Linked DNA regions of Homo sapiens. The gene in region 2 interacts genetically with the main gene of each other region. Each region holds a gene or a part of one and is shown on either strand. Other genes may lie near its edges.

Evidence for each region.
Region 1: changes in CDCA8 (region 2) and TCOF1 together harm fitness more than expected from each alone (negative genetic interaction), as found in Homo sapiens cells (one large-scale study listed by BioGRID).

The regions. Positions count from the first base shown.
Region 1 is NC_000005.10:150,363,492-150,368,967, reverse strand, and holds part of TCOF1 (treacle protein), read right to left. Parts: intron 4,856-5,476; coding exon 4,716-4,855; intron 1,125-4,715; coding exon 1,051-1,124; intron 253-1,050; coding exon 66-252; intron 1-65.
Region 2 is NC_000001.11:37,700,540-37,706,015, forward strand, and holds part of CDCA8 (borealin), read left to right. Parts: intron 1-1,214; coding exon 1,215-1,279; intron 1,280-2,712; coding exon 2,713-2,808; intron 2,809-4,901; coding exon 4,902-5,028; intron 5,029-5,476.

The DNA.
Region 1 (5,476 bases), on a different chromosome or scaffold from region 2:
TGCCTAGGCCTGCCTCACCAGCCCAAGTTCTGGGGACTAGGTTCCTAGAGGTGGGGACTTCTTACCAGGCTTGGCAGCAGCTCCAAAGGCCGGGACGCTGCCCTCCTCCTCAGTTTCTGAGACCAACGTAGTATTTGCTGAGGGCTCTGCTGACTTCCTGGGAGACTTCCCAGAAAGAAGGTTGGCCACCGTCTTCCCAGTGGCAGGGTGTGGCATGGAATTCCCAGTCTTGCCAGCTTTCTCTGTCTCTGCCTACAGAGAACAAGAGTGACAGACACATCTGGTATGGCATGGTGAACTAAGAGCACAGGCCACTTGCATCTGAACCCAATCTTACCACTTCTTAGCTGTGTGAGTTTGGGTAAACTACCCCTTCAATCTGTTTCCCAATCTTTAAAGTGAGGTTAAAAACAGCACCTCCTCTCACCAGAGGTGTTGAGAAAACAGAATCCCAGTTCTTGGGACATGGTAGTTATTTACTAAGTGGTAAGTAGCAGTTTGTTGTTGATCTTATCATTACTTCATAATTACTTTGAGACATTGTTGCTAATGCTCCAGGCAATCGCAGAGGCACAATTCTTTATACATGTATGTATCTAACTCTGCTTTCTGGATTATTAGAAAATGACACCTTGTTTTTTGAGCAGTTTCCAGTTTGGAAAATGCTTTTAGAGTTTCAGAACCACAGATGTCTTGATCACTACGGTGCCTCCACACCTAGCACAGTGCCTGGAACATAACAGGTATTAGTCAAGATCTGTTGAGTGAACGGGTGAACGCAGGCATGAAAGAGGAAAGAAATCGCCTACCCCAGGTGTAGAATGTGCCCAGTGGCCCACTGCAGCAGGCATCATCCTTATCTTTATAGAAAAGTAAACTGAGGCCCAGAGAGGTGAAGGGACTAAGATCCCACAACTGGTGACACAGGTTGAGCTCTGAATCCAGGTGGGGCAATTACTCACAACCCTATCCTTCTCTGACATGTAAGACTGTCCCCTACCAGGCACCTTAAATCCCATAGGCAATAGCTTGGAAGGCAGTCCCACTCACCTTGGCTTTTTCTTTCATGCTTGATGGCAAGTCCGCCCCCAGGACTGAGGAGTTGGTAGATGCTAGTCTTGGGGCTGCAAGAAACAAACATCTGCTAAAGGAGCCAGATGAGCTTTTCTCATCTATGAATGGCAAACAGGTTTCATCTCACCTAACAATTCTATTGGTATTGGCTGCCTGGTGCTGGCATGAGGATCTGAGGCTGAGCCCAGACTTGCAGGAATGAGCTCTGTGATGCATCAGCCAGGTCCACCAGGAGCAAGAGAGAAGAGGATGGTAACATGAAGCTATGTGTCTGCATCCTTGATGGATTCCCAACTCCCCCGCAGCATGAGACGTGGAGGCCCCTGGAGGGAAAAGGACTGGCCCACATTCTTGCTGCCTACTGGGCACTGCACACTGCAATGGGCACCATTCACACAGGCCACCACACTGTAGCCCTGAAAGCTGTTCGGCAAGAAGGGGCAGTGGTCAGGCAGGCAGCCAGCCTCAGGTCCACAGAGAAAGTTGCCTGGAATTCAAATGGCTTCTTAGTGGAGAGGTGGCTGAACCATGCCACCTGGGCCCCGTTAGATATCGATATTCACTGATTCTCAGTGCTTATTTATTTACTGGGACAGAGTCCTGCTCTGTCGCCCAGGCTGGAGTGCAGTGGCACAATCTCGGCTCACTGCAAGCTCCGCCTCCTGGGTTCACACTATTCTCCTGCCTCAGCCTCCTGAGTAGCTGGGACTACAGACGTCCACCACCATGCCTGGCTAATTTTTTGTATTTTTAATAGAGACGGGGTTTCACCGTGTTAGCTAGGATGGTCTTGATCTCCTGACCTCGTGATCTGCCCACCTCGGCCTCCCAAAGTGCTGGGATTACAGGCATGAGCCACCGCACCCAGCTTCTCAGTGCTTTTATACCAGGGTATTGTCTCCTTAAATCTCAGATTTCTTTTTGTTAAGAAGAATGTTGGGCCGGGCGCGGTGGCCTCACGCCTGTAATCCCAGCACTTTGGGAGGCCGAGGCGGGTGGATCATGAGGTCAGGAGATCGAGACCATCCTGGCTAACAAGGTGAAACCCCGTCTCTACTAAAAATACAAAAAATTAGCCGGGCGCGGTGGCGGGCGCCTGTAGTCCCAGCTACTCGGGAGGCTGAGGCAGGAGAATGGCGTGAACCCGGGAAGCGGAGCTTGCAGTGAGCCGAGATTGCGCCACTGCAGTCCGCAGTCCGACCTGGGCGACAGAGCGAGACTCCGTCTCAAAAAAAAAAAAAAAAAAAAAAAAAAGAAGAATGTTGCTGAGATGAATGGCATGATCTAATTCTTTTCCTGGCACTTCACTCCATCTCTCTCTTTCTGTAATTATGGAAAATTTTTAAGTAGTAAATAGAAAGGAAGAACCAGGCAGCTCCAACCATTAACAACTTGTGACCAATCTTTTCATCTCATGTATTATCTCACTCACCCTTCCCCATCAAGCATTACTTTGAAGAAAATGCCATAGATCCTACCACGTTGCCCACAAATACTTCAGCATGTTTCTCTCTCAATGAGGATGCGTTTTTAAATTTTTTTTGAGACAGGGTCTTGCTCTGCTGCCCAGGCTGGAGTACAGTGGCACATTCATAGCTCACTGCAACCTCCAATGCCTGGACTCACATGATTCTCCTATCTCAGCCTCCTGAGTAGCTGGGACCACCAGTGCATGCCACCATGCCCAGCTAATTTTCTTATTTTTTGCAGAGACGGAGTCTCACTATGTTGCCCAGGATGCCAACGAGGACTCTTCTTCCTTTTTTTTTTTTTTTTGAGACAGTCTTGCTCTGTTGCCCAGGCTGGAGTGCAGGCACAGTCATGGCTCACTGTAGCCTTGACCTCCTGGGCTCAAGTAATCCTCCCACCTCAGGCCTCCTAGGCAGCTGAAACTACAAGCACACGCCACCATGCCTGGCTAAATTTTAAATTTTTTGTAGATACAGGGTTTTGCCATGTTGCCCAGGCGGGTCTCCAACTCCTGGGCTCAAGTGATCCTTCTACCTTGACCTCCCAAAGTGCTGGGATTACCGGTGGGTGTGAGCCACCATGCCCAACCCAGTGAAGACTTTTAAAAAAATAAAATTACATACCCGGAGGCTGAGGCAGGAGGATCACTTGAGGCCAGGAGTTCAAGGCCAGTCTAGGCAACATGGCAAGACCTCATATCAAAAAAAGCCCCAAACAAACAAACAAAAAAATGTAATTACACCTCCATTATCACAGCTTATAAAATTGATTAATACCAAATAGCCAATCAGTAAGAAATTTTACCATTTGTGTTTCAAATAGCATGCAGGTCTGTATATATGCATGTAAGAATACATGTTTGAATGAATATAGAGGCAAAGGAGGAAGTTTTAAAGGTTACCTATGAGGAGATGCACTTAGGAATGATAGGGAACAGGGTAGGACAACAAAAAACCTTTAAGTTTTCTTCTATATGCTCTTCTACAGTTCAAAGTGAACTCGTTTTGCATTTATAATGTAAAATTAAGCGATATATAATATATATCCAGGGCGCAGTGGCTCATGCCTGTAATCCCAGCCCTTTTGGAGGCCAAGGTGGGCGGATCACCTGAGACTAGTCTGGCTAACATTGTGAAACCCCGTCTCTATTAAAAAAAAAAAAAAAAAAAAGAAAGAAAAAGAAAACCCACAAAATTAGCTGACAGTAGTGGTGCATGCCTGTAGTCCCAGCTACTCGGGAGGCTGAGGCAGGAGAATCACTTGAACCCAGGAGGCGGGGGTTGCCCTGAGCTGACATCACGCCATTGTGCTCCAGCCTGGGTGACAAGAGTGAAACCCCGTCTCAAAAAAATAATAAAATATATACCTAGTATGATCTCAAACACTTTAAAAGCAGACTCAGGAAGCTGGGCATGGTGGTATGTGCATGGAATTCCACCTACTCAAGAGGCTAAGGCAGGAGGATCACTTGAGCTCAGGAGTTCAAGACCAGCCTGGACAACATGGCAAGACTTTGTCTTGAAAAATAAAAAATAAGTATTAAGAAATGTGTCTTCTATGTAAGCAAAAGAAGATAATACGATGCAAAGGAGACACAGCAATTCCTCTGTAGAGTTATGGCTGCTGTTGGGGAAAGTACAAGGAGCCCTGGGACCTTAGGAGAAGAAGGGGCTATAAAAGCTTTGACTGAGTTACTCCTGCAAACGGTGTAAAACCAGTGCCCAGTACAGCGTTCCAGTGCTAATGGGTACAATTCTAAATGAACATGAAGATCAGCAATTCCTAAAGCATCCCACAGGTCACACAGAAAATGTGTCCGCTAGCTGCTTTCTGAAATCCCTCCAGCAGTACTTCTGAACGTGTGTCTTCTTTCCAGCTAATAAGAATCACCTGGGAGCCTGTAATAGGGCAGCTCCTGGGCCCCATACACCAAATGAGACTGGAAGGGCCCATCTGGTTGTTTTGGTTCGGCCTTGCACCCCCAGAGCATGGAGATATAATGCCTGGCACGGAGGAAGGGCTCAAATACTGCCAAAGATATGTGGTGCCCTCCCAATCTCCTCCCCAGGGTCTTTTAGGTCTTCTAGTGATAAGAGAAGAAGCTGGAGGTAGACTCTACCCTAGAACAATCAATATTCCATAGCCTGTTCCCAAAGCTGCAAGGCTCTTACTGGCTTTGGCGGTTTCGGCTTCTGCTTCTTCCTCCTCTTCCGAGCTCTCCGAGGTGCTGATGGGGTCTGACACACGGGTTTTCTTAGCTTGCAGTGCCGCATCTTCCTCTGCCTTCCGCTTCCGACCAAGCTCTGAGGTTCTGCAGGACAAGGGTGACTGTCTATACCAACTGGGTGACAGAACAACTCCACAAGAATTGACTAGACAGACCTTCCCGCATCCTTCCAGCTCTTAAAGGCAATGTGCATAGAATCTAAACAGTGGTGAAAACACAGTATAGGCACAATTTTGTATTCTGCATTTTCACTCACTTCATAAAGTGCTTTTACAATTCTTGATTAGTCTTTAAAATAATCAGGAATGCTGGATAATGTTATATAACAGCTGCAGCAGCTACCAGTCTTTAAGTGATAGGAGCTGACCCATGCAGGCACCTCACAGAACCGCCCAGGCTCTTCCCCCTGCAGAACATGCTGTGTGTACTGTGCCTTCTTGGAAGACTCTGCCCAGGTCCTCGTCCTTCCCGTCTCAACTTTAATGTAGCCCCCCAAGAGAGGCCCTCGAAGATTGCCCCTCTTCCAAGGCATGCTCTGCCCTGTGATCCTGTTTCATTTTCTTCATAGCTTTTCTCTATCTCCTGTTATTTTACTTACTTCCTAGACTCCTCCCCTACACAGAAAGGCCCAGGGAGGAAGGCAGCTGGCAGCTCACTACAGTATCCTCAGTGCCTCACACATGTCTCAAAAACTGAACAACTAAG
Region 2 (5,476 bases):
TGGAGGCTGGGGGTTATCACAAGACAAGCAAATACAAATGCATAAAATACACTGTTGTACACCAGAGCTCACAGTTTAGTAGAGATGATCCTACTTTACATGGCAATGACAAAAGAGATAATTGACTGGTGTGCAAAGTGTGTAGAACACAGAAGAGGAAGCTAGCAAGCCTCCCCTACCCCACTAGGACATAGACAGGCCTTTCAAGGTGAGTGAGAGTCTACTAGCTAGAGAAGAAAGGGAAGAGGAACAGTATTCAGGATAGATGGGGGAGGCGGAAAACTGAAGATGAGGAAACCAGTTAGAAGCCTATGAATTCTTGAACTGACATGCTGACACTATAGAATGAAGGGATGGTTTTTAGATAGGTTTTAGAAAGAAGTGGCATGGTTGGTGGAGAAAAGGAGGAATCAGAGACAACTGCATGGTTTCTAGCTAAGGCAAATGCTATCCAGTGAGGTGTGGGACCCAGGTGGCAGAGGGTGCTGGACTGGGGGTGGTGGAGCACATGCCAATTGCATGACATGTTGACCATTCATTACTTTTCCAGGACATCTAGGCTAGACAGAAATTTCAGCCTGGAGCTCAGGGAGAAGAGGGAGATTTGAGAGATACACTGCCTCCCAGATCTTTAGGTGTTTGTCCCAGTGTGGGAGTGGAGATGGTTGTGCAGGGAGAGCAGGAAGGGAGGGAGTCAGGGTGGACACTAGAGGGAGGGTAGAGAGAGGAGCTCCTAAGGCAGACTGCCAAGGAAGTTAGAGAAGCAGGAAAGACAGATCCATCACGGAGGACAAGGGAGGAGAGAATATATGGAAGATAAGGAGTGATTCTTGCCAGGGACCTCCCAGGCCCCAGGAAGGGAGCACTGCAGGGTTTGCCTTTGATTGGGCACCTGGGACGCCCTGAGTGACCTTCACAGCAGCCCTTTATGTAAAGTAGTGGGGTACAAGCCAGGCTGCAATCAGTTCAAAAGAGATTTACCTTTAATCTTGGTCAAAATCCTCTATTTTGAAAACCCAGCCAGTGGAAGTCCTTATTCAATTAGTTATGTTCTGAACTTTTTAAGTCATTGAATTCTGAGATACACCTTATTATATTTAGTATTAACTATCCAAAGCTTGTTCTTAATGCTTTAAAAAAAAAAAAAAAACCCTCCTTACCTTCCTCTTTGCTGGGTTTTTTGTAACCTTAGTCTCATTTGATTGTGACTGCAGGTCAAAAGGTGTCCTCCATCCAAGAAGAGAACTCAGTCCATACAAGGAAAAGGAAAAGGGAAAAGGTAGTGGATTTTCTAAAGTTGTGGTGTTTTGGGTTTTATTGGAGAGCCATATATATCATGGCAGAAAGTGAGGGGCAGTGAAAAGGCTCTGGTGGCTAGTGTTTGAAAGCAGCTTAAAATCACTGAATCCTTGAGTATCCAAGCTGGAGGGGTCTCTAGAAATGACCTAAACCAAAACCATCTCCAGTACTTTAATGTACATTCTCTATCCTTCCCCACTTTTTTTTTTTTTTTTTTTTGAGACGGAGTTTCAATCTCGTTGGCCAGGCTGGAGTGCAATGGTGCAATCTTGGCTCACTGCAACTTCTGCCTCGCGGGTTCAAATGATTCTCCTGCCTCAGCCTCCCGAGTAGCTGGGATTATAGGCATGTGCCACCATGCCGGCTAATTTTGTATTTTTAGTAGATGCGGGGTTTCTCCATGTTGGTCAGGCTGGTCTTGAACCCCCGACCTCAGGTGATCCACCCACCTCAGCCCCCACTTTTTTTTTTTAAGTATAGCAAGAACTGCCTGTTATGTTTCAGTTCCTGATAGTCCATATGTAGAGCTACCCCATAGCTCGTCATAGAGTGGCTGTCACTTACCTATAATTGGTTTCTTGAAATGTTTTGTCCAGTCCTGCAAAGTGAAGAACCTCTATGGGCTTGAGTTGATTATACTGGACTCTACCATAAGCCATGTGGGGGAAGGTACAGCAGCTTAGGAGAGTAGTCACCGGGATGCATGTCTGTGGAGGAGCGAACTCATTTCTCTTGAGCAGTGCAGCAGCTGCCTGGCACAAGGACAGAATTCCAGCTGGGGGAGCCTTCGCATGAAGAGGCTGTCTCCTTGATTAAAAAGTCAGATTCTGAGGCTGAGTGTGGTGTCTCACACCTGTAATCCCAGCACTTTGGGAGGCCAAGGCAGGTGGATCACTTGAGGTCAGGAGTTTGAGACCCGCCTGGCCAACATGGTGAAACCCTGTCTCTACTAAAAATACAAAAATTAGCCAGGTGTGGTGGTGCATGCCTGTAGTTCCAGCTACTCGGGAGGCTGAGGCAGGAGAATCGCTTGAACCCAGGAGGTGGAGGTTGCAGTGAGCCAAGATTACGCCATTGCACTCCAGCCTGGGCAACAGAGCAAGACTCCGTCTCAAAAAAAAAAAAAAAAGTCAGATTCTGGAGGCAGACTACTTTGGTTCAAAGTTTTGGCTCCATCCTAATTGGATATGTGATCTTGGGCAAGTTTTTAAAACTTGATGCACCTGAGTTTCTGCATCTGTGTATGAGGATGGCAGCAGTGCTGGCCTCCCGTGTTAGAAGGGTCACGTGAGTCGATGTGTGCGAGGCGCCCGGAGCAGTATCTCACAGTCAGCTCTCCACGTGTCACTCCTCTGCTGCTGCCTTCGTGGAACCTGAGAGTTGGCATACCTGATGGCCATTTCTTACCTGTAGGTCAAGCCGTGCTAACACTGTTACCCCAGCCGTGGGCCGATTGGAGGTGTCCATGGTCAAACCAACTCCAGGCCTGACACCCAGGTTTGACTCAAGGTGAGTATCGAGGGAAACACTTGGATTTGATGGGACTCCAACATTGAGCACTACCCAGAGAAGGAGTGTCTAAGAAAATACTCCTAGGCCAGGCACGGTAGCTCACGCCTGTAATACCAGCACTTTGAGAGGCCGAGGCAGGCGGATCACTTGAGGTCAGGAGTTCAAGACCAGCCTGGCCAAGATGATGAAACGCTGCGTCTACTAAAAATACAAAAATTAGTTGGGTGTGGTGGTGCACGCCTGTAATCCCAGCTACTCAGGAGGCTGAGACAGGAGAATTGCTTGAACCCAGGAGGTGGAGGTTGCAGTGAGCTGCAATTGCACCACTGCACTCCAGCCTGGGCAACAGAGTGAGACTCTGTCTTAAGAAAAGAAAAGAAAATAGTCCCGAGTCCTTGGCCTGGGATGCCTTGTCAGAGGACAGTGGCCAGCTGGGTTTCCTGGTGTATGCCTCTCCCTTAAGTGTAGTTTCACCTATCTTCAGTGGCAAAATGATTCTTTAATGGGAGGGAGGTGAATATTCTGCCTGTGATGACTAGGAGGCCTCTAGGTGACGTTTTTGGCCTTTTCTGATTCAAATCAGAAGGTTTTTATTTTATTTTTAAAATATTTATTTATTATGAGGCAGGGTCTCACTCCAATGCCCAGGCTGGAGAGCAGTGGCACAATCACGGCTCACTGCAACCTTGACTTCCCGGGCTCAAGTGCTTCTCCCACCTTAGCTCCCAAGCATGCCACCATGCCTGGCTAATTTTTTGTTTTTTTGTAGCGATGGGATTTCGCCAGGTTGCCCAGGCTGGTCTCGAACTCCTGAGCTCAAGCAATCTGCCCACCTCGGCCTTCCAATGTACTGGGATTACAAGCATGAGCCATCACACCCGGCCTCAAATCAGTTTTTTAAAGATGAGTAGGCACTCTCCTGTACTCTTGGTAGAAGTAAAAATTGATACTGCTTTTTTGGAGGCTGGCATAAGCGAGGATATTCTTGCAGCATAAGTTAATACCTTCCAAAGAACCTAGTTGACCAAATAGGAGATGCTGTATAGCCATTAAAAAAGACTGGATCTGTGTGTGCTGACAGGGAAAGAGCACCGTGATCACAGAGCATCTCCGAGCAGGTTGCTGAACACTGTGCTGTATGATCCCATTTGGTTTTATATACATACAAAGTTTCTGGAAGGATAGATAAGGAATTCAGAGTGGTTACCCCTGGGGAGGAGAGCAAGAAGTGGTTATCTCTGGTGTGGGGAAGTGTTGAAGATTTATTTTCTACTTTTAATTGCCACTTTTTTTTTTTTTTTTTTTTTTTTTTTTTGAGACGGAGTCTCGCTCTGTCACCCAGGCTGGAGTGCAATGGCACAATCTCGGCTCACTGCAACCTCCACCTCTCAGGTTCAAGCAATTCTCCTGCCTCAGCCTCCTGAGTAGCTGAGATTATAGGTACATGCCACCATGCCCAGCTAAGTTTTGTATTTTTAATAGAGACAGGATTTTGCCATGTTGGCCAGGCTGGTCTCGAACTCCTGACCTCAGGTGATCCACCCCCCTCGGCCTCCCAAAGTGCTGGGATTACAGGTATGAGCCACGGCACTCAGCCAGTTCCCACTTTTCTTTACTGTTTGTTTTCTCACATGAATATGTAACAAAAGGCATTTAGGGAAAACTAGGTAGCAGTATTTTAACTGTCTTGAGAAATTAGTATAATGATGTAATATCTAAATCATCCTCCTTTGCCTCTGAAAAATTCCTCTTGATGGAAGCAGCCACGCCTGGAAACAATTAACCAGCGTATTTCTGGCTTTGTGGATGGATGGATGATGGCACCCATATGGAGCTTTGGACCTAAACTTTATGTGGATAAGAGTTGGCTTTTTGTAAGATGTATGTTCAATAATTACAACCTTCTTTCTCCAGCTGTGTTTAGTCATTACTGCTTTAAAACATTTTTTTTTTCTAAATTTAGAACGTGCTTTCTTAGGAATGTATGACTTAAAAACTGCAACTTGAGGCCAGAGTAAGGTTAAAATGGCCTATAGAGTTTGGTGTCATCCAATTGCCAAGCTATCTTCACAGAGATTTTCCCATTCTAGGGTCTTCAAGACCCCTGGCCTGCGTACTCCAGCAGCAGGAGAGCGGATTTACAACATCTCAGGGAATGGCAGCCCTCTTGCTGACAGCAAAGAGATCTTCCTCACTGTGCCAGTGGGCGGCGGAGAGGTGAAGTATTTCCAAGGGAAGCCAGGCCACAGTGTGCTGCTTAGTCAAGCATTTCTTTTCCCTGGGCCCTCACCCACGCTTCACCCTCAGAGTCCTTTCAGTGCGTGGGTCCTGATCTCCACACTTCTGCGGGACTCAGAACCCAGTTTTCTCTCCCAGGTTAGAGGCCCAGACTGCAAAGATCGTTGCTCAGCTCTGGGTTCTGTTTTTCTGTTTTTTGGTTTTGTTTTTGTTTTTTGTGGGTTTTTTTTTTTTTTTTTTGAGATGGAGTCTTGCTCTGTCACCAGGCGGGAGTGCAGTGGTGCGATCTCGGCTCACTGCAACCTCTGCCTCCTGGGTTCAAGCGATTCTCTTGCCTCAGCCTCCTGAGTAGCTGGGACTACAGGCACACGCCATCATGCCCAGCTAACTTTTGTATTTTTGGTAGAGATGGGGGTTTCACCACGTT